Homo sapiens: one gene and its partners. The protein of the gene in region 1 interacts with the protein of each later gene in a biochemical or structural test. Each region holds a gene or a part of one and is shown in the gene's direction. Other genes may lie near its edges. The genes, in order: MARCHF5, FUNDC1, MFN2 and MAP1B.

What was found.
Region 2: the proteins of MARCHF5 (region 1) and FUNDC1 form a complex in vitro, tested with the Homo sapiens proteins (one study listed by BioGRID).
Region 3: of the proteins of MARCHF5 (region 1) and MFN2, one has a biochemical effect on the other in vitro, tested with the Homo sapiens proteins (one study listed by BioGRID).
Region 4: of the proteins of MARCHF5 (region 1) and MAP1B, one has a biochemical effect on the other in vitro, tested with the Homo sapiens proteins (one study listed by BioGRID).

Annotation. Positions count from the first base shown.
Region 1 is NC_000010.11:92,348,644-92,354,464, forward strand, and holds the end of MARCHF5 (E3 ubiquitin-protein ligase MARCHF5), read left to right. Parts: intron 1-705; coding exon 706-889; intron 890-1,027; coding exon 1,028-1,194; intron 1,195-2,447; coding exon 2,448-2,564; 3' UTR 2,565-5,321; downstream 5,322-5,821. UniProt on the Homo sapiens protein: Mitochondrial E3 ubiquitin-protein ligase that plays a crucial role in the control of mitochondrial morphology by acting as a positive regulator of mitochondrial fission and as an important regulator of immune response.
Region 2 is NC_000023.11:44,524,935-44,529,957, reverse strand, and holds part of FUNDC1 (FUN14 domain-containing protein 1), read left to right. Parts: intron 1-2,592; coding exon 2,593-2,721; intron 2,722-5,023. UniProt on the Homo sapiens protein: Integral mitochondrial outer-membrane protein that mediates the formation of mitochondria-associated endoplasmic reticulum membranes (MAMs).
Region 3 is NC_000001.11:11,986,405-11,991,427, forward strand, and holds part of MFN2 (mitofusin-2), read left to right. Parts: intron 1-2,760; 5' UTR 2,761-2,764; coding exon 2,765-2,939; intron 2,940-5,023. UniProt on the Homo sapiens protein: Mitochondrial outer membrane GTPase that mediates mitochondrial clustering and fusion. Mitochondria are highly dynamic organelles, and their morphology is determined by the equilibrium between mitochondrial fusion and fission events.
Region 4 is NC_000005.10:72,194,058-72,199,080, forward strand, and holds part of MAP1B (microtubule-associated protein 1B), read left to right. Parts: coding exon 1-5,023. UniProt on the Homo sapiens protein: Facilitates tyrosination of alpha-tubulin in neuronal microtubules. Phosphorylated MAP1B is required for proper microtubule dynamics and plays a role in the cytoskeletal changes that accompany neuronal differentiation and neurite extension.

The DNA of each region.
Region 1 (5,821 bases):
GGATAGGGTAAGGAAAAGATTGTATTAGCTTCATTACCCCCATAGATAGGGTACCCTAGAGTTCCTGAATTGGGAAAAATGCCTGGGATCTGTAACCAAAACTGGACCTCCTACTACAGTCCCTCAATTCTAGACCTTGGAAGTGCACTTAAGGAGGGTTAGGTCTGTAGGGTAGACACTTAGCCAGCCAGAGACATCACACCCTATCTTACACACCACTAAGTAAGGAGAAAGAGCCAAAGAGAAATGAGCTTTCAGGCCATCTCTTGAAGGCCGGTCCTACCTCTTGGCTGGCTATGCTTAATCTCCTAGAAGGAAGATCAGGAAAACAGTTGTTTTGCTGGAAGACAAATAGGACTTAGAATTATATCCCAGTTCCGTAGCCCAGTCTAACCAAATCAAATAAAGGAATAGAAGCAACAATCAGAGGTCCCCGCCCCTCTATTGTAATGTAATCAGTCTGGGTCAGCCATTTTAATTTTTATTCCTGTGTGGTATGAAATGGCTTGGGAACTTTGTTTTTCCCTTGAATGAGACATTTCTTATAAATAAATCAGGACTGATAGCTTTCCAGCTTATTTTTTAAACTTTTTATTTCTGTGTATTCTTTTGAAATTAAGCATTTTCTATTAAAAAAATAGAGCTTAACATGCAACACCTCATTTGAAAAAGAAGTAATTCTAATATATGCTATCTGTTTCACAGGTTGTAGGTCATAAAGAAGGTCTGGATGTTATGGAGAGAGCTGATCCTTTATTCCTTTTAATTGGACTTCCTACTATTCCTGTCATGCTGATATTAGGCAAGATGATTCGCTGGGAGGACTATGTGCTTAGACTGTGGCGCAAATACTCGAATAAACTACAAATTTTAAATAGTATATTTCCAGGTAAGGCACTGAACTGTGGTTGTAAAGTGCATACCAAATTGATCTTGAAGAACAATAACATGCTTTTTTAGCCATGTTTGAAGGTAGTCTAACTCTTCTGATTTATTAGCACTAACGCACTGCATTTTTTTCCTCTAGGGATAGGTTGTCCTGTTCCTCGAATTCCAGCTGAGGCCAATCCTTTAGCAGATCATGTCTCTGCTACTCGAATCTTGTGTGGAGCCCTTGTCTTTCCTACTATTGCTACAATAGTTGGTAAATTGATGTTCAGTAGTGTTAACTCTAATTTACAAAGGACAATCTTGGTAAGACGGCTTTAACATTACTTATATTACCTTGCAAAAGAGAATGAAGTGTATTTGTTTTTAAAAGGTGGGGAACTGTATAAATATTCGGTCTGTGGCTCCTATGCATTAAGCCTCTATTTGAGCCTCACTATCATTCAATAGCTTGAGTGGAAATAAAAAGAGGAGAAACCACTGCAGCAGTTCTGGCCTTTTGGAACTATGTTGTAGGTGCTTTCTCTCCTGGCATATGCATGAATCATCACACCTGTCCCTCTTGCCAGTGGGATTACAGTACTTTACGATCAGACCACCTGGTTCAAATCCCATCACAGAAATTGTCTTGCTGTGAAATCTAAATCAAATGTCTGGACTTTTTGTTCCTGTAGTATGGTGATGGTAATAATCAGGATTATTGTGAGGATTGTATAAGTACTAGCACATAGTAAGCACTCATGTTGTTTGCTATTATTGTTACTCCCACTTCTCCCCTCTGGTGGCATGTAACCTGCACGGACCTTGGAGGACTGAACAAAGGGGGCAAACGTGGGAATAAAAGACAAAGACAAGAGAGTATATTTGGAAGAAGGGGTCAGGGGGCACCTTGCCTCTAGTGGACAAGGGCCCTGAGCTTTACACAGCCCTCTGTATTTATTAGGCAAAAGAGATAGTGAGAAGCAGGGGTGATTGTCGGGTAATTGTCAGTCCATTTGGCAGTTTGGTTCACAGCAGGCTTGCGAGACTGCATCATTTGAACAGTAGGCGCTAGATTTCCCAGTAGATAAGTTCAAGGAGCCCTGCACCAGGGAGTGATGGCCCCCAGCAAACCCTTTGGTGGCAGGCTCAGTGTGAGTTTACTCACATCCTGCATTCATGATAAACAGTTTGCTGTTTGGTCATATAGCCTCCAGTGGAATGCTGAGTTGGTCACGATCCCTTTGGCCTTTCTTGCTCCCAACAGTGGCAGTCTGCACATAGTGCCCTAGCATTCTTCTTTGTATATCAGAGTATATGTAGAACTACATGGAAGAAAGACTAGTCAGAAAGGATAATGGAGAAGGCATCTGTGTCCCCTGTTACCTGTAGTAACAGCGTATAGTCTGTCTCTCTCCCTATCTCATCTCCTAGTAGAAAAAGAAAACTGTTTCATTTGCAGTCATCTGAATTAGTTTAGCATCAAAGCCTACGTCTTTTGTGATCTAAATAAAATTATTTTTATTACTCTGTTTCTCTAAATCTGCATTATAAAAAGCTAATTTTCCTTTTTATTTTAGGGTGGAATTGCGTTTGTTGCCATAAAAGGAGCATTTAAAGTTTACTTCAAACAGCAGCAATATTTACGACAGGCACACCGCAAAATTCTGAATTATCCAGAACAAGAAGAAGCATAAAACTGACTTCTGGTTGTTCTGCAGTTCTCTCATCCTTATGAATCTGTTGTGTTGTTTTGATTCCATCATTAATGCACTTGTGGAGACTTGTGATAAGCTGCTGCTCCTATATTTTTTAAGAAATATAATAAAGCACTTAGGGCAGGGGAAATCATCTCGGTAATCATGGAACCTAAGGATGTGATTTGTTTTCATTGTTTGTATGTACTACTTTTATGGCAGTCATATGAACCATTATCTTAGCATGGTAAACCTGGGTTTTGTTCATATTTTCTCCAGACAGAAATGCAAAGATCAAACTGTGCAAATATTAAAAAAATGCACATGCTGTTTTATTCAAATGCCTCTTTTGTACATGTTCATGTTTAGTGTTTTCTCAGAATCAGCAACTCAAGGTACTATGAGGATTTTTCTCACTGACATAATTTGATTACATACTAAATAAGAGGATATGTTAATATGAGGAAATGTAAATTAAATTAGTTATAAATAAATAACCAAAAATGTATGTAAACATTCAAATGATTATCTGAACAAATGAGATTTTGTGGTGTTTTCTTTAACCCATGTGATGTCCTCCAAAATGTGTAGGGTAAAAATTCACAGGGCTTCCAGATCACTTTTTCAATATTAAATTTTATTTACATAATGTTGACATCTCATACTTCATGAAGTAATTTTGACTCATGCAGTCGTGTGTGTGTGTGTGTGTGTGTGTGTGTGTGTGTGTGTATTTGTGTGTTTCAGTGTTTCATCAGGTCCTTCCATCTCTGGGAGTTTTTTCAACCCATATTTCTAGAAATTACAGCTGCCAGTTTATAGTAGTTTGAGCAGAGGATGATTTGCAAAAATAAAAATAAAGTTATTTTACTCTCCTCTTGCATTGATTCAGTTATTGAGATATTCGTTGATCACCTCCTATTTCCCAGGCACTGTGCAGAGTGCTGTAGGACATAGTGGTGAACAAGACAGACTTGGTCCAAGCTCTTACAGAGTTGACAGTCTAGTTTCAGCACATAGAAAACCAGCAGTGAATAAACCAAGGTGAGGCCTTGAGCTCTTTGTTTTTATATTAATGAGGAGAAAAGTATGAAAACAAGAAGTCTTAAGTAAATATTGAGGTCATTGTTTTTGGCTTAAGTTTATTATAGAAAATCAACACTAATGTTTTTAGATTTTAATTGTCCTATTGATGAGGCTAGCACCTTAATCACTGTTTAGTTTTGTATTCATTTTTAAAAGCAATTATTGAAGCCATTTTCAATAGATTGGCCATTTTAATGTTCAGCAACCTGAATGGTTATTTTTGTTAATTAAAATTAAATTTTTAAGAGATATTTTCAAAACCCTATTTATTTTCTTGTTCACAGTAATGCATGTCAATAATAAATGTTTCCCCTTACTGATAAGCGGCCACTTTAGGAGTGTAGCAAATATAGATTGAGCTATGTTAGTTTGCAATAATATATGTTAACTTTAGTAATTAAAGACTGGTTTCTATAGTATGAATGTCTTAATTTTGAGTTATATGATGTTTATTTGAATGACTGTTGAACATTCAAATTTGTATTATTTGGAGATGAAGATTTGACTAACAGTGAGCCTTATTAAGAACACTACTACAGTTCTGAAGGGGAAATATAACATCTATGGTTATATATTTTAAAAACTTAGATTATAGGCTGTAATTATAAAATATATTGGCTTTTGTTTTCAATGTGAAAGATACATTAAATGGACACATATCTTGCAAAATTTTGTTGTATAGAACAGTTTTTAGGCAGCCTTTACTAAAGTTATGCAAACACACAGTTCCCCATTTACTACATTAATGCCCTTGACAGGGAGTAGCTGCTTGGTTTTATAGGTATTAGGGCTCATGAAGGCCGGGGAACAACTCTAATCCTTTTGGGGCAGGAGGGAGGGTTTTTTTAGGGTTGCGGGGAGGGAACTGCAAGTGCCTGAGGACCAGAGTGGCCTCTAGCCCCGAATTGAACACTTTTAAACCTAAAGAGCCTTATTATTATTAGCTCGAGAAATACCACATGCCAGTCTTCCCAGGAAGGTGACCTGCCTGACCATGAAGCAACAAAAGAGCATAGGCAGACTTAAAGTTGGATAGACCTGGGTTCAAATCATAGTTCAGCTTTCAATAACTGTATGTATGATTTTGGCTAAAGGATTTGACTTTCTCTCAACTGCAGTTTTCTTAATCTTTGAAATGCAAATAATGTTTATCTCAGAAGACTATTTCTAGGATTAACTGAGAGATTAAAGGAACAGCAGCACTTAGGCTCAAAATCGCCCCTACAAAGCAGTAGTTGTTTCTTAATTGCTAAGTAATCTGTTTGCACTCTAGGAAAAGTAAATGGAGAGGTAAAAGAAAGGCATTGGGGACAAATGAAAGAGATGATGTAGATTTTTCGGATGGGTGGGTATATTTTATTTTCCAGTTTATTTTCATATTTCTTTACTGTGTTATTTCTGGAAACTTTAATGTTTTAAACCTCTTTTATAAAATTCAATGACGACTACTAGAATTCTTTTCAAAAGTTAACTTATCTCCAAAGTGGCTGAAAATATTGTTTACCATTACATGATTATGAAATGACTGTGAAGAATATAAAATTAAACTTAGTGACTTAATTAGTCACTGCCTTGCTAACTTTGCTGTAATTTTTTTAAACGTCTTGTTTTTAATATAGCAAACTATCTCAATACTGGCTGGATTAGGTTAAATAAAGAATTTTTATGTTCTCTAGGTGTACTTTGTTAAATCTCAAAACATTCTGTACATACATAATTTTTTTTAATCACAGTTATCGAGATACTAGTTTTTGTAAGTAAAAGTAATCTGAATTTAAAAAAAAAACTGTATGGAAGAATTTGTCCTAATTTTGTAAACAGGCTAGCCTATATTCTAAGTATGTTCTAATGACTAAACTACATCCCCACTCACCCACCCTCAAAGCCTCTTGCACTGAGTATAATTAAGCAACTAGACAAGATCTGTGGGTGGTCTCATGCCATGATGTCTTAAAGTGTATTCGAGTGAGTTGGGAACACAAACTGCTTCTGAGATATTAAGAACTTAAATTTCTGAAGTAGAAGATTAGAATCCTCTAGAATGAGTTAAAGGTCTTTTCCTTGCATCCATTTGGGGATTATATTGGTTTTAAGTCATTTCATTACCCCATCTGAGAGACAGATGCTAAGAGGAGAAAGGGCATAGAATTGAACAGTCCTGGATGCATATG
Region 2 (5,023 bases), on another chromosome or scaffold:
ACTGTAATCCCAGCACTTTGGGAGACCAAGGCAGGAGGATGGCTTGAGGCCAAGAGTCCAAGACCAGCCTGGGCAACATAGTGAGACTTCATCTCTCTCTCTCTTTTTTAAGGCATTAATATCTTTAGCATCTCAAGGTTTTTCATTTTTCCTGCAAGGGAACAGATTCTCAAGGGAATTTGTTCAGTGATGGTAGATCACTCCAGCATCAAAGATCATTCTCTTGTTAGTAGACATGCTAGGTTGGGTCCTTTGGGATAATCTAGCTCATCCATTTTGTTGCTGAGAGTCATTATTTGAGCCAGGTTGGTTAATACAGCTTTTGAGATTTAGTCTTTATTCATTGTCTTTGTTATCATTTATTTACTATGTCTCATTCATCTGGCATTAGTTGGGACTCTAGGGATATAGAGATTCACAGCCCATATGGTCAGTGCTGAGCTAGAAGGGTGTGTTTAGTGCTGAGAGAGCAGAGGGAAGACGCTCTGTCTGCTTGGAGGTGTTAGGGAAGTCTTCTTCCAAAGAGGCGTTAGTATCTTTAGCATCTCAAGGTTTTTCATTTTCCTTGCAACTGTTTGACATTTTCCCCCAAAACGTAGAGAATTCTTTAAATTATACAAAATCTTTATCTCAGATAACACTGGGTTTACTAATTATCAGTGACAAATGGCTATGTAAAAATATTTTGTGTATAGAATGCTGTTTGTGAGAATTTGTTTAATCTGTCTCATTAAAATGGTTTCCTTTATTCATTTGCTGGGGATTGGGGGGTGGATAAGGGGTCTCACCCAGGGAATATAGTTAAGGTTTGTTTTTTGTTTTTTTAATTTCACTTCCAATTTAACTCATGGCATGAAGATTAGCTTTTTAAAAAAAACTTTGTAACTTAAAATGTTAAGTCTTGAAAATGACAGTTGAATTGGGAGTTGCTGATGAGTGGTGGTATAGATAATATTTTTGTTCTGCCGGGCGCGGTGGCTCATGCCTGTAATCCCAGCACTTTGGGAGGCCGAGGCGGGTGGATCACGAGGTCAGGAGATCGAGACTATCCTGGCTAACACGGTGAAACCCCTTCTCTACTAAAAAACAAAAAATCAGCCGGGCGTGGTGGCAAGTGCCTGTAGTCCCAGCTACTCGGGAGGCTGAGACAGGAGAATGGCATAAACCCGGGAGGCGGAGCTTGCGGTGAGCAGAGATCACGCCACTGCACTCCAGCCTGGGCGACAGAGCGAGACTCCGTCTCAAAAAACAAAAATAAAAAAAATTTTGTTCTAACCAAAAAATAAAGCCATATACATACATAAAATATTTGTACTTCTCACAAGCTTTGGATTAAGAAGAAATGTTAAGATTCAGCAAAAAGTAAAATTCTGCAAAAGCTTCAAAGTAATCAACTATTTTGATTACTTAGTGCAAGCCAATAAGAAGTCTTTTCAATTTATATGTAGAATTTTCCTAAGGTTCATCATCACCTCCATGCCTGTGACTCAAATTGCTGTATCAAGTACTAACAGAAAAAGCCTTCACTTGCCATTTGATTTGATCACCACTGTTTTGCTGAGGCTGGAGTTTGAAGTGATAGTAGATGAATAAATACAAGAAGAAATGCAGATAAACAAATTCTTCTATGGAGTCATTCACAGACAAAATAGAACCTAAGATTTCTAGTCAGCCTGTTTATGCAAAATCAGATATTTTTATTATTTAAAGTATTTTCTGTGTGGCTAAAAGTCAGTGTGTTCATTCAGGGTGCAAATGGCAAAAGAAAAGTGATGCACTAAAAAATTACAAAGAAAGCATAAGCTTGACAGAAGTGATTTATAATGGTATATATGGCTATTTTATTATTTGGAGGCACTGAGTTACTGGACTGGCTTGCACACACACTGTTGTTCCTGTTCAGATATTGCAGTCTCTCAGTAGTACCATATGATAATTTTTCTTATGATAGGCATTTAGCTATAGTTTTATTAAAAGGATTTATGGCATGAAACTTGTGTAGAGTGCAGTTTGTTTTATATTCTACTTTCAAAAGCAATTACCAGAAAGTATTCTTAATTTAAGTAAAGAGAGCTATTTAAATACTTACCAGGCTACTTAAATTTCTTTAGTGATCTAATAACTGATTGGCTTATGATCCCTTATAATTAAAGATCTATTTAATTAAAAAGTATTTTTAAATTAGCTATATAATCTAGATAATCTCTGTATCTTTTTAACTAATTCCCTATTCCAAAAGGTGTGACAGAATGATAGTATAGTTAAAAGACAGTTTTTGGAATCATTTTCCCATCATGTACTAAACACTGTTCATCACATCTAAATAATTAGTTACTTACTTATGCTTAATATCTGTTTTCCCTAACAGACCTGAAGCTCTCTGAGGATAGGGGCTTATGTCTCCCTTATTCAGTACTTAGCATAGGGTAGGCACTAGTGTCTGTTAAATGAATAAACTAGTGGAGAAAAAGCAATTTCTTAGCTATAAGTTTTATAGGTTACTAGAACTCTTAAGTGTTTATATATTCTTGGCTATTATAGTCAGCAACCTAGTTGGTATAGTATTGATAATTTTTATTATATTTTTTGCAGATTGCTAGTCATAGTGGCTATGTGCAGATTGACTGGAAGAGAGTTGAAAAAGATGTAAATAAAGCAAAAAGACAGATTAAGAAACGAGCGAACAAAGCAGCACCTGAAATCAACAATTTAATTGAAGAAGTAAGATGATATATAATTTTGACTTTTTTTTTTTTTTTCCTTTTTTTGGTTAATGGGTATCCCTTAGCAGAAAATGTGACCGGGGGGGATTACTGTCTTTTTTAAAAATGGTGTTTTTGGTTATATATCTAGAGTGTTAAGTAAAATTTGAGATCACACCACTACTTAAATCAGTCATTATTTTTTTTTTTTTGGTGGTTATCATAGATTCCCCTGCATATCTCTAGCTCACTTTGATCTTGTTGTAAAAACTAAGAACATTCTTTTCAACATATTTCCTCTGCCTTTATAAATGAACATGTACAGGTGTAGTAAAACTTAAAAGTACACATTTTTTTTCTTGAGGATAGTTTGAAAATATGTTTTTTTAATATGATTAATATATTTTATTAATGTTTTCAGGTGTAATTTGACCCTTTACTTTTGTACTGTTTAAAATGGAATTGAATACTTCCTTGCCTTTGTTTTTGTTTTATCCTTTTACCTCCCTCAACTTTTTAGTTTGAAAAAATTCAAACCAGTTAAAAAGTTGAAAGACAAATATAGTGAATATCTCAATACCCTTCATCTATTCACCAAATTGTTCATGATTTGCCGTGTTTACTTTATCTGTGTGTGGGTGACACACACAGATAATTTTTTTTCCAAAGTATTTAAGATGTCATAACTTTTCATCCCTAAATACTTCAGTATGTATCTTCTAAGAGTACAGATATTCTCTTATACAACTATGAATACGCCCCCCCCCCTTTTTTATTTTTTTACTGTGTGGGAACTGCCACTTCAGAAACTTTTTTTTTCTTTTTTGAGACGGGTTCTCGCCCTGTAGCCCAGGCTGGAGTGCAGTGGCGTAATCTTGGCTCACTGCAACCTTCGCCTCTCGGGTTCAAGCGATTCTCCTGCCCCAGCCTCCTGAGTAGCTGGAATTACAGGCACGCGCCACCTCTCCCAGCTAATTTTTTGTATCTTTAGTAGAGACAGGGTTTCACCATGTTGGCCAGGCTGGTCTCGAACTCCTGACCTCATGATCCACCCGCCTCAGTCTCCCGAAGTGCTGGGATTAGGGGCGTGAGCCACCAGGCCCGGCCAACTGTTTTTTTTTGTTTTTTTTTTTTGTTTTTTTTGAGACAGGTCTCATTCTGTCTCGCTGTGTTGCTTAGGCTGGAATGCAGTGGCATCATCATGGCTCACTACAGCCTTGACTCCCCTGGCTCAAATGGTCCTCCCACCTCAGCCTCCCAAGTAGCTGGGACTACAGGTGTGCATGATGCCTCGGCCTCCCAAAGTGCCAGGATCACAGGCGTGAGCCCCCATGCCTGGCCAAATGCCATTATTAATAAAAAAAAAATGTAACATGAGATAATAGTATTTCCTTTCTTTGTTAATTTTTTTTAGACAGGGTCTTGCTCTGTCACCCAGGCTGGAGTGCAATGGTGTGATCACAGCTCACTGCAGCCTCGAGCACCTGGGCTCAAGTGATCCTCCCACCTCAGCCTCTCAAGTAGCTGGGACTACAGGTGCATGCCCAGCTAATTTTTATATTTTTGTAGAGATGAGGTTTTGCCATGTTGCCAGGCTGGTCTCAAACTCCTGGGCTCAAGCAGCCTGCCTGCCTCAGCCTCCCAATGTGCTGGGCATTACAGGTTTGAGCCACCACACCCAGCCAGTATTTTCTAATATGCAGTTCATATTAATATTTTTCTACAAAATATCTTGTGTGGCTTTTTTTTTCCCAATTAAGAATTATATGCCAGGTACAGTAGTTCACTCCTGTAATCCCAGCACTTTGGGAGGCTGAGGCAGGAGGATCTCTTGAGCCTAGGAGTTTGAGATCAGCCTGGGTAAGAGAGAGAGACCTTGTCTCTACAGAAAATACAAAAATTAGAACGGTGGCATGCACCTATAGTCTCAGCTACTTGGGAGGCTGAGGTGGGAGGATTGCTTGAGGCTGTGAGACGTGATTGTGCCACTGCACTCCAGCCTGGCTGACAGAATGAGACCCTGTTCCCACTCACCCCCCCAAAAAAAATTATATATTGTTTTCGGTTATCATGTCTATGAAGTCTCATTTAGTCTTAAACAGTCCTTTCATCTGTTAATTTTATTCCCCCATCTTTCATGGCACTGACATTTTTGACACCTCTAGGCAGAATATCCCACAGTCTGGCTTTGTCTGATGGCTTCCTCATGATTTTATTCTGGTTAAACATTTTACCAAAGTAATTTGTTTTGGTTTTGATCCTGTACATTTTTTTTTCTGTTGGCTAAATGGACTATTAATAAATACCATTGTGCCTGCTGT
Region 3 (5,023 bases), on another chromosome or scaffold:
TGTGCACACACCCCCTCATCCAGGAGGGCCTTTGCCCTTTGACTTCCTGGGATTGGTGGGCTCTGCTCAAGAAGTAGCTTTCGCCGTGGTGGGAACTCTGAGGGACCTGGCAGGGGTCCACTTTTGGGGTCGGAATTCCCAGTCTTACCCTGGGCACTCCTTCTGGTGTGTACGCCTCTTTTTGATCTTTTTTTTTTTTTTTTTGAGATGGAGTCTTGCTCTATTGCTCAGGCTGGAGTGCAATGGCGCGATCTTAGCTCACTGCAACTTCCAGCTCCCAGGTTCAAGCAATTCTCGTGCCTCAGCCTCCCGAGTAGCTGGGATTACAGGTGCCTGCCACCATGCCTGGCTAATTTTTGTATTTTTAGCAGAGAAGGGGTTTCACCATGTTGGCCAGGCTGGTCTCAAGTGATCCACCCGCCTGGGCCTCCCAAAGTGCAGGGATTATAGGTGTGAGCCACCATGCCCAGCCTCTTTTGACCTTTGACCAAAGACCTCTAGGACTTTGGAGTCAAGTCTCATGACCTCTAAAATGTTGTTATATGAAAAGATAAGCTACAAAGATATGTAGGATTGAGTGAGAGCAAGAGAGACAGTCACACAAAAATAGACTGTGATAATATGGCTGGGTACGGTGGCTCACGCCTGTATTCCCAGCACTTCGGGAGGCCGAAGCAGATGGATCACTTGAGGTCAGGAGTTTGAGACCAGCCTGGCCAACATGGTGAAGCCCTGTCTACGAAAAATAAAAAAATTAGCTGGGTGTGGTGGTACATGCCCGTACTCCAAGCTACTCAGGAGGCTGAGTGAGGCAGGAGGATCGCTTGAACCTGGGAGGTGGAGGTTGTAGTGAGCTGAGATTGCACCACTGCACCCAGCCTGGGTGACAAAAGTGAGACTCTGTCTCAAAAAAAAAAAAAAAATTATAATAAACAAAATGTTGGGCCGGGCGTGGTGGCTCATGCCTGTAATCCCAGCACTTTCGGAGGACAAGGTGGGTGGATCATTTGAGGTCAGGAGTTCAAGACCTACCTGGCCAACATGGTGAAACCCCACCTCTACTGAAAATACAAAAATTAGCCGGGCATGGTGGCGAGTGCCTGTAGTCCCAGTTGCTTGGGAGGCTGAGGCAGGAGAATAGCTTGAACTCGGGAGGTGGTGGTTGCAGTGAGCCGAGATCATGCCACAGCACTCCAGCCTGAGCGATAGAGCAAGACTCTGTCTCAGAAAAAAAAAAAAAAAATGTTGGCTGGGCATGGTGGCTCACGCCTTTAATCCCAGCACTTTAATCCCAACACTTTGGGAATCCAAAGTGAGAGGATCATTGGAGCCCAAGAGTTTGGGAGCAGCCTGGGCAACATAAGAAGACCCTGTCTCTACAAAAAATTTTAAAAAAATTAGTGGGGCGTGGTGGTGCATGCCTGTGGTCTCATGTACTCAGGAGGCTGAGGTGGGAGGATTGCTTGGACCCAAGAGGTTGAGGCTGCAGTGAGCTGTGATTGCGCCACTGCACTCCAGCCCAGGTAACAGCGAGATCTTGTCTCAAAATAAAAAATAAATAAGTAAATAAAATGTTAACATTGCTTATCACAAAATGATGGGGTTATGGGTTTTTTTCCCCTTCAGTTTCCAAATTTTCTGTAGCACACCTGTGCTATACTAAAATAGACCAATAGTTTTTGTGTGTGTGTGTGTGTGTGTGTGTTTTTCTTTGTTGAGACTTGGTCTGGCTCTGTCACCCAGGCTGGAGTACAGTGGTGCGATCTCGGCTCACTGCAACCTCCGCCTCCCAGGTTCAAGCAATTCTCTGCCTCAGCCTCCCAAGTAGCTGGGATTATAGGCGGCCACCACCACACCCGGCTATATTTTTTTGTATTTTTAGTAGAGACGGGGTTTCATCATGTTGGCCAGGCTGGTCTTGAACTCCTGACCTTGTGATCCACTTGCCTCAGCCTCCCAGAGTGCTGGGATTACAGGCATAACCCACCATGCCTGGCTGTTTTTTTTTTTTTTTTTAAATAGAGACGGGGTCCTACATTGCCTAGGCTTGTCTCGAACTCCAAAGTTCAAGTGATCTGCCTGCCTTGGCCTCTCAAAGTGCTGGGATTATAGGTATGAGCCACTGAACCTGGCCCCTAACCAATAGTGTTTTTATGTGGTCTTGCTCTGTCTCCCAGGCTAGAGTGCAGTGGACTGATCATAGGTCACTGCAGCCGAAACTCCTGGGCTCAAGTGACCCTCCCACCTCAGACTCCCAAGTAGCTAGGACTGCAGATGCATGCCACTGTGTCATGCTAATTTTGTTTTATTTTTTGAGACAAAATCTCGCCCTGTCACCCAGGCTGGAGTACAATGGCATGATCTTGGTTCATTGCAGCCTCCATCTCCCAGGTTCAAGTGATTCTCCTGTCTCAGCCTCCCAAGTAGCTGGGATTACAGGTGTGTGCCATTGGGTCTGGCTAATTACTGTATTTTTAGTAGAGACGGGGGTTTCACCATGTTGGCCAGGCTGGTCTTGAACTCCTGACCTCAGGTGATCCACCTGCCTCAACCTCCCAAAGTTCTGAGATTACAGGGGTGAGCCACCGCGCCCAGCCTGAGACACTGTTCTTATCTCACCGTCCTTTGTTCTAGTCCTGGAGGTTGCAGTGACCTGAGATCCCCATATTCTTGATTCTCCCCAAAGCATTCCGCCATCTCCCTAGCAGGATGTCCCGAGGTAGGTGTTGCTGGGTTCGCTCACGTTAGCTTCTCTTGCAGCGCAATGTCCCTGCTCTTCTCTCGATGCAACTCTATCGTCACAGTCAAGAAAAATAAGAGACACATGGCTGAGGTGAATGCATCCCCACTTAAGCACTTTGTCACTGCCAAGAAGAAGATCAATGGCATTTTTGAGCAGCTGGGGGCCTACATCCAGGAGAGCGCCACCTTCCTTGAAGGTAAGGGGGCACCGGCTCAGCCAGGCCCGCTCTTACCTGTTTAGATATTTAGCTAGTGGGATTTGCGGGTGGGGAGGTATATCTCTGCTCCCAGGGAAGTCATAACCAGATAGCCTTAGAAATGCTCTGCTCTTGAAATCATGTGGAATTGGAGTCTGGGGAGATGAGGCCAGGAAGACAAGGGAACTGCCATTTAGTAATTACTTTAAGAAGTCCACATGTTTTGTTTCATTTAATCATGAAAGATAGGTGAATCTTATCCCCATCTACAAGGCAAGCAAATTGAGGTTTGAGAGTTGTCCGATACCTTGTAAGTAATAGATCAGGGTTTTACCCAGGTGTCTCCAACTCCGGAGCCCACGTGTTTTCCTTTGCCTAGTTCTGGCTGCCATTAATACCAGGCACTGTTTGGGTGTCAGTGATCCCTGACCAGGGCGCCCTTTCTTTGATATTTTTAGATTGGTGACAGAACTATAGGAAACTCACGTCACCTATGCCTTTTCTACTAGTTACTAATTTGAGCCCAACCTCTAGTTCCTTGTCTATCAGCAGAGAAGGACTGGTTCCCAGGGCCCCGCTCGTCTGAGTGTCAACTCCAGCACTGGCTTCCTCAGGCTCCCTCTTTAGAAGGACACTTTGGCGCCAGGTCCTGAGATTGTCTGTGGAGACCCAGTAACTGAGTCTTATCTGCCCTTGGTTTCCTCACTTGTGAAAGTGGGGCTCAGGTGTGAACAGTGGTTTCAGATTCTAGTCTGCAGAACCCTAGAAGTTCAGTGGTGGTGCTTCGGGGGTTGGCCCCTGGCTCAGGGGGGCCACCTTCTTTCCATTCTGCTTTCAAATAGAGCAGCTTGGCTTCTCGTTGTTTTACATGCCAGGCTGCTACACGAGGCTCCCTTTGAAGAAAGAGACTGTCCAACTTCATGCCCTCATCTGTGCCCTGCCCTTTGCGTGGCGCTTGATGCCACAGAAGGTGTTTCCTAAATACTTGTTGAACTAAAACAAATCTGAATTTTAAAGTAGTATGATTGGTAGTTGAAATAATCCCAACTCATTGCCTGTTTATCAGTGGCTATGGTGTGCCAGCCGTGTGCCAGGTGCTGGGCATGCAGAGATGGGGTAGATCAGGCCGCTCCCCTCTGGGAGCCCAGACTAACCCTCTTGGAAGCTCTGAGTCACCTACTCAGATGATGTGGTGGACAAACACATGCGTAATGCAGGTGTTTATGTGATGCATGCTTTGATTTCTCTGTGTGTGAAAATATGAGGCCTCCCCTGTTGTTTAAATGGAAGGGAAAGAGCTGGAGTGATCCTGAGCTGTGCTGGGTCAGGGAAAGAATGGTTCCTGCCTGGGCACTGTTTCTAACGGGCAGGTAACAAGAGCTTGTTGGCCTGCTGGCTCTCGCTTTTAAGTGTAGTCACATGCTTGAGAGCCAGCTTCCTCCGAGGGACATTCCAAAGGCCATGCCCAGGTGCCCATATAAGGGAGGAATATTGATGCATCTGGGGCAGAGGTGACCGGTGGACATAGCGGGAGGGGAGATGGGGGTGTTGTTGACTTGGTCATTTCCTTTCATGGCGCTGGCTGTGGGGGAAATTCACTGGGCAGGCCCTTGTCATGCTTCAGATGCTTTCGGAGTGTTCTCAGGGCTGGGGCCTGTCAGCCTCATAGTTCCCAGGAGTGTGCAGAGGGGCTAAACACCCGTCTGTGTTCCAGCCAGCTGAAGCACCTGTCTGGTGCGAGTTCTAGACAGGACAGTGGTGGGATCTCACTCAGTTGCTCCTGTATGGAGTAATTTGTTGGCCATCTGCCTGTTAAGGGCACTGGGAAAAAGCAGTGCAGTGATCCAAAGGTCTGCTCACGTAGCAAACATTTGTGCACCTGCTGGGTGCTGGGGTCAGATAGTGTGGCCCTCATGAGGCAGATGACACAGACAGGTGAGCTGTACAGTTACCTTATGGTGAGGTGAGAGCTGAGATGGGAGAAGTGCAGGGTGCTGGGGCACACAGAGAAGGGGTCCGGGGTCCTGACTCAGGTTAGAGGGGTGGTCAGAGAAGGCTTCCTGGGGGCAGTGCTGTCTAAGCTA
Region 4 (5,023 bases), on another chromosome or scaffold:
GAATCAGTGGAAGTCCCATCTCCCTTTGACATCTTGGAACCTCCCACATCGGGTGGATTTCTGAAGCTCTCCAAGCCCTGCTGTTATATTTTTCCAGGAGGGAGGGGCGATTCTGCCTTGTTTGCAGTGAATGGTTTCAATATGCTCATCAATGGCGGATCAGAGAGAAAATCCTGCTTCTGGAAGCTCATCCGACACTTAGACCGAGTGGACTCCATCCTGCTCACCCACATTGGGGATGACAATTTGCCTGGAATAAACAGCATGTTACAGCGGAAAATTGCAGAGCTCGAGGAAGAACAGTCCCAGGGCTCCACCACAAATAGTGACTGGATGAAAAACCTCATCTCCCCTGACTTAGGAGTTGTATTTCTCAATGTACCTGAAAATCTCAAAAATCCAGAGCCAAACATCAAGATGAAGAGAAGCATAGAAGAAGCCTGCTTCACTCTCCAGTACCTAAACAAATTGTCCATGAAACCAGAACCTCTGTTTAGAAGTGTAGGCAATACTATTGATCCTGTCATTCTTTTCCAAAAAATGGGAGTAGGTAAACTTGAGATGTATGTGCTTAATCCAGTCAAGAGCAGCAAGGAAATGCAGTATTTTATGCAGCAGTGGACTGGTACCAACAAAGACAAGGCTGAATTCATTCTGCCTAATGGTCAAGAAGTAGATCTCCCGATTTCCTACTTAACTTCAGTCTCATCTTTGATTGTGTGGCATCCAGCAAACCCTGCGGAGAAAATCATCCGAGTCCTGTTTCCTGGGAACAGCACCCAGTACAACATCCTGGAAGGGTTGGAAAAGCTCAAACATCTAGACTTTCTGAAGCAGCCACTGGCCACCCAAAAGGATCTCACTGGCCAGGTGCCCACTCCTGTGGTGAAACAAACAAAACTGAAACAGAGGGCTGATAGCCGAGAAAGTCTGAAGCCAGCCGCAAAACCACTTCCTAGCAAATCCGTGCGCAAGGAGTCAAAAGAAGAAACCCCTGAGGTCACAAAAGTGAATCACGTGGAAAAGCCACCCAAAGTTGAAAGCAAAGAAAAGGTAATGGTGAAAAAAGACAAGCCAATAAAAACAGAGACCAAACCTTCAGTGACTGAAAAGGAGGTTCCCAGCAAAGAAGAGCCATCTCCAGTGAAAGCCGAGGTGGCTGAGAAGCAAGCCACAGATGTCAAACCCAAAGCTGCCAAGGAGAAGACGGTGAAAAAGGAAACAAAGGTAAAGCCTGAAGACAAGAAAGAGGAGAAAGAAAAGCCAAAGAAAGAAGTGGCTAAAAAGGAGGACAAAACACCTATCAAGAAGGAGGAAAAACCAAAAAAGGAAGAGGTGAAAAAAGAAGTCAAAAAAGAGATCAAGAAAGAAGAGAAAAAAGAACCCAAGAAAGAGGTTAAGAAAGAAACACCGCCAAAGGAAGTCAAGAAGGAAGTTAAGAAGGAAGAGAAGAAGGAAGTGAAAAAGGAAGAAAAGGAACCCAAAAAAGAAATTAAGAAGCTCCCTAAAGACGCAAAGAAATCATCTACTCCTCTGTCTGAAGCAAAAAAACCAGCTGCTTTAAAACCAAAAGTACCCAAGAAGGAAGAGTCTGTCAAGAAAGATTCTGTTGCTGCCGGAAAGCCAAAGGAGAAGGGGAAAATAAAAGTCATTAAGAAGGAAGGCAAGGCCGCAGAGGCTGTCGCTGCAGCTGTCGGCACTGGAGCCACCACAGCAGCTGTCATGGCGGCAGCTGGAATAGCAGCCATTGGCCCTGCCAAAGAACTCGAAGCTGAGAGGTCCCTTATGTCATCTCCTGAGGATCTAACCAAGGACTTTGAAGAGTTAAAGGCTGAAGAGGTCGATGTAACAAAGGACATCAAGCCTCAGCTGGAGCTAATCGAAGACGAAGAGAAACTGAAGGAAACTGAGCCAGTCGAAGCCTACGTCATCCAGAAGGAGAGAGAAGTCACCAAAGGTCCTGCCGAGTCCCCTGATGAGGGAATCACTACCACTGAAGGGGAGGGCGAATGTGAACAGACACCTGAGGAGCTGGAGCCCGTCGAGAAGCAGGGAGTAGACGACATTGAAAAATTTGAAGATGAAGGAGCCGGTTTTGAAGAATCTTCAGAGACTGGAGACTATGAAGAGAAGGCAGAAACTGAGGAGGCTGAGGAGCCAGAAGAGGATGGGGAGGAACACGTATGTGTGAGCGCCTCCAAGCACAGCCCCACTGAGGATGAGGAAAGTGCCAAGGCGGAGGCTGATGCATACATCAGGGAGAAGAGGGAGTCTGTGGCCAGTGGGGATGACCGAGCCGAAGAAGACATGGATGAGGCCATTGAGAAAGGAGAGGCTGAACAATCTGAAGAGGAGGCTGATGAGGAGGACAAAGCTGAAGATGCCAGAGAGGAGGAATATGAGCCGGAAAAAATGGAAGCTGAAGACTATGTGATGGCTGTGGTCGACAAGGCTGCAGAGGCTGGTGGTGCCGAGGAGCAGTATGGATTCCTCACCACACCAACCAAGCAACTAGGAGCCCAGTCTCCTGGCCGAGAACCTGCATCTTCAATTCATGATGAGACTTTACCTGGAGGCTCAGAGAGCGAGGCCACCGCTTCTGATGAGGAGAATCGAGAAGACCAGCCTGAGGAATTCACTGCCACCTCTGGCTACACTCAGTCTACTATTGAGATATCCAGTGAGCCCACCCCCATGGATGAGATGTCTACCCCTCGAGACGTGATGAGTGATGAGACCAACAATGAAGAGACGGAGTCCCCTTCTCAGGAATTCGTAAATATCACCAAATATGAATCTTCATTGTATTCTCAGGAATACTCTAAACCTGCTGATGTTACACCGCTCAACGGATTTTCTGAAGGATCAAAAACAGATGCCACTGATGGCAAGGATTACAATGCTTCAGCCTCTACCATATCACCACCCTCTTCCATGGAGGAAGACAAATTCAGCAGATCTGCTTTACGTGATGCTTACTGCTCTGAAGTGAAAGCCAGCACCACTTTGGACATCAAAGATAGCATCTCAGCTGTTTCAAGTGAAAAGGTCAGCCCATCGAAGAGCCCGTCCCTGAGTCCATCTCCACCATCACCCTTAGAAAAGACCCCCCTGGGTGAACGTAGTGTGAACTTCTCTCTGACGCCCAATGAGATTAAAGTCTCTGCAGAGGCAGAAGTAGCCCCGGTGTCTCCTGAGGTGACCCAAGAAGTAGTTGAAGAACATTGTGCTAGTCCTGAGGACAAGACTCTGGAAGTGGTGTCACCATCTCAGTCCGTGACTGGCAGTGCTGGTCACACACCTTACTATCAATCTCCTACTGACGAGAAATCCAGTCATCTCCCTACAGAAGTCATTGAAAAACCACCAGCAGTTCCAGTGAGTTTTGAATTCAGTGATGCCAAAGATGAGAATGAAAGGGCTTCAGTAAGCCCCATGGATGAGCCCGTGCCTGACTCAGAGTCTCCTATTGAAAAAGTTTTGTCTCCTTTACGCAGCCCGCCCCTCATTGGATCCGAGTCTGCTTATGAAAGTTTTCTAAGTGCTGATGACAAGGCTTCTGGCAGAGGTGCCGAAAGTCCTTTTGAAGAAAAGAGTGGAAAACAAGGCTCTCCAGACCAAGTAAGTCCAGTTTCTGAAATGACTTCTACTAGTCTTTACCAAGACAAACAGGAAGGGAAAAGCACAGACTTTGCACCAATAAAAGAAGACTTTGGCCAAGAAAAGAAAACTGATGATGTTGAAGCCATGAGTTCTCAACCAGCACTGGCTCTGGATGAAAGGAAATTAGGAGATGTTTCTCCCACACAAATAGATGTCAGTCAGTTTGGATCTTTTAAAGAAGACACTAAGATGTCCATTTCTGAAGGTACTGTCTCAGACAAGTCAGCTACTCCTGTTGATGAGGGCGTAGCAGAAGACACGTACTCTCATATGGAGGGTGTGGCCTCAGTGTCCACAGCCTCAGTGGCTACGAGCTCATTTCCAGAGCCAACAACAGATGATGTGTCTCCATCTCTGCATGCTGAGGTTGGCTCCCCACATTCCACAGAAGTAGATGACTCCCTTTCAGTGTCTGTTGTGCAAACACCTACCACATTCCAGGAAACAGAAATGTCTCCATCTAAAGAAGAATGCCCAAGACCGATGTCAATTTCTCCACCAGATTTCTCCCCTAAAACTGCAAAGTCCAGGACACCCGTTCAAGATCACAGATCTGAACAGTCCTCAATGTCTATTGAATTTGGCCAAGAATCTCCTGAGCAATCCCTTGCTATGGACTTCAGTCGACAGTCTCCAGATCACCCTACAGTGGGTGCAGGCGTGCTTCACATCACTGAAAATGGGCCAACTGAAGTGGACTACAGTCCTTCTGACATGCAGGACTCCAGTTTATCACATAAGATACCACCTATGGAGGAGCCGTCCTACACCCAAGATAATGATCTTTCTGAGCTCATCTCAGTATCTCAGGTAGAGGCCTCCCCGTCCACCTCTTCTGCTCATACCCCTTCTCAGATCGCTTCTCCTCTCCAAGAAGATACTCTATCCGATGTTGCTCCTCCCAGAGATATGTCCTTATATGCCTCACTCACCTCTGAAAAAGTGCAAAGTCTGGAAGGAGAGAAGCTCTCTCCAAAATCTGATATCTCTCCACTCACCCCACGAGAGTCCTCTCCTTTATATTCACCTACTTTTTCAGATTCTACCTCTGCAGTCAAAGAGAAAACAGCAACTTGCCACAGTTCCTCTTCTCCACCAATAGATGCAGCATCCGCAGAGCCCTATGGCTTCCGTGCCTCAGTGTTATTCGATACAATGCAACACCATCTAGCCTTGAATAGAGATTTGTCCACACCTGGCCTGGAGAAGGACAGTGGAGGGAAGACACCTGGTGACTTTAGCTATGCCTATCAAAAGCCTGAGGAAACAACCAGGTCCCCAGATGAAGAAGATTATGACTATGAGTCTTATGAGAAGACCACCCGGACCTCAGATGTGGGTGGCTATTACTATGAGAAGA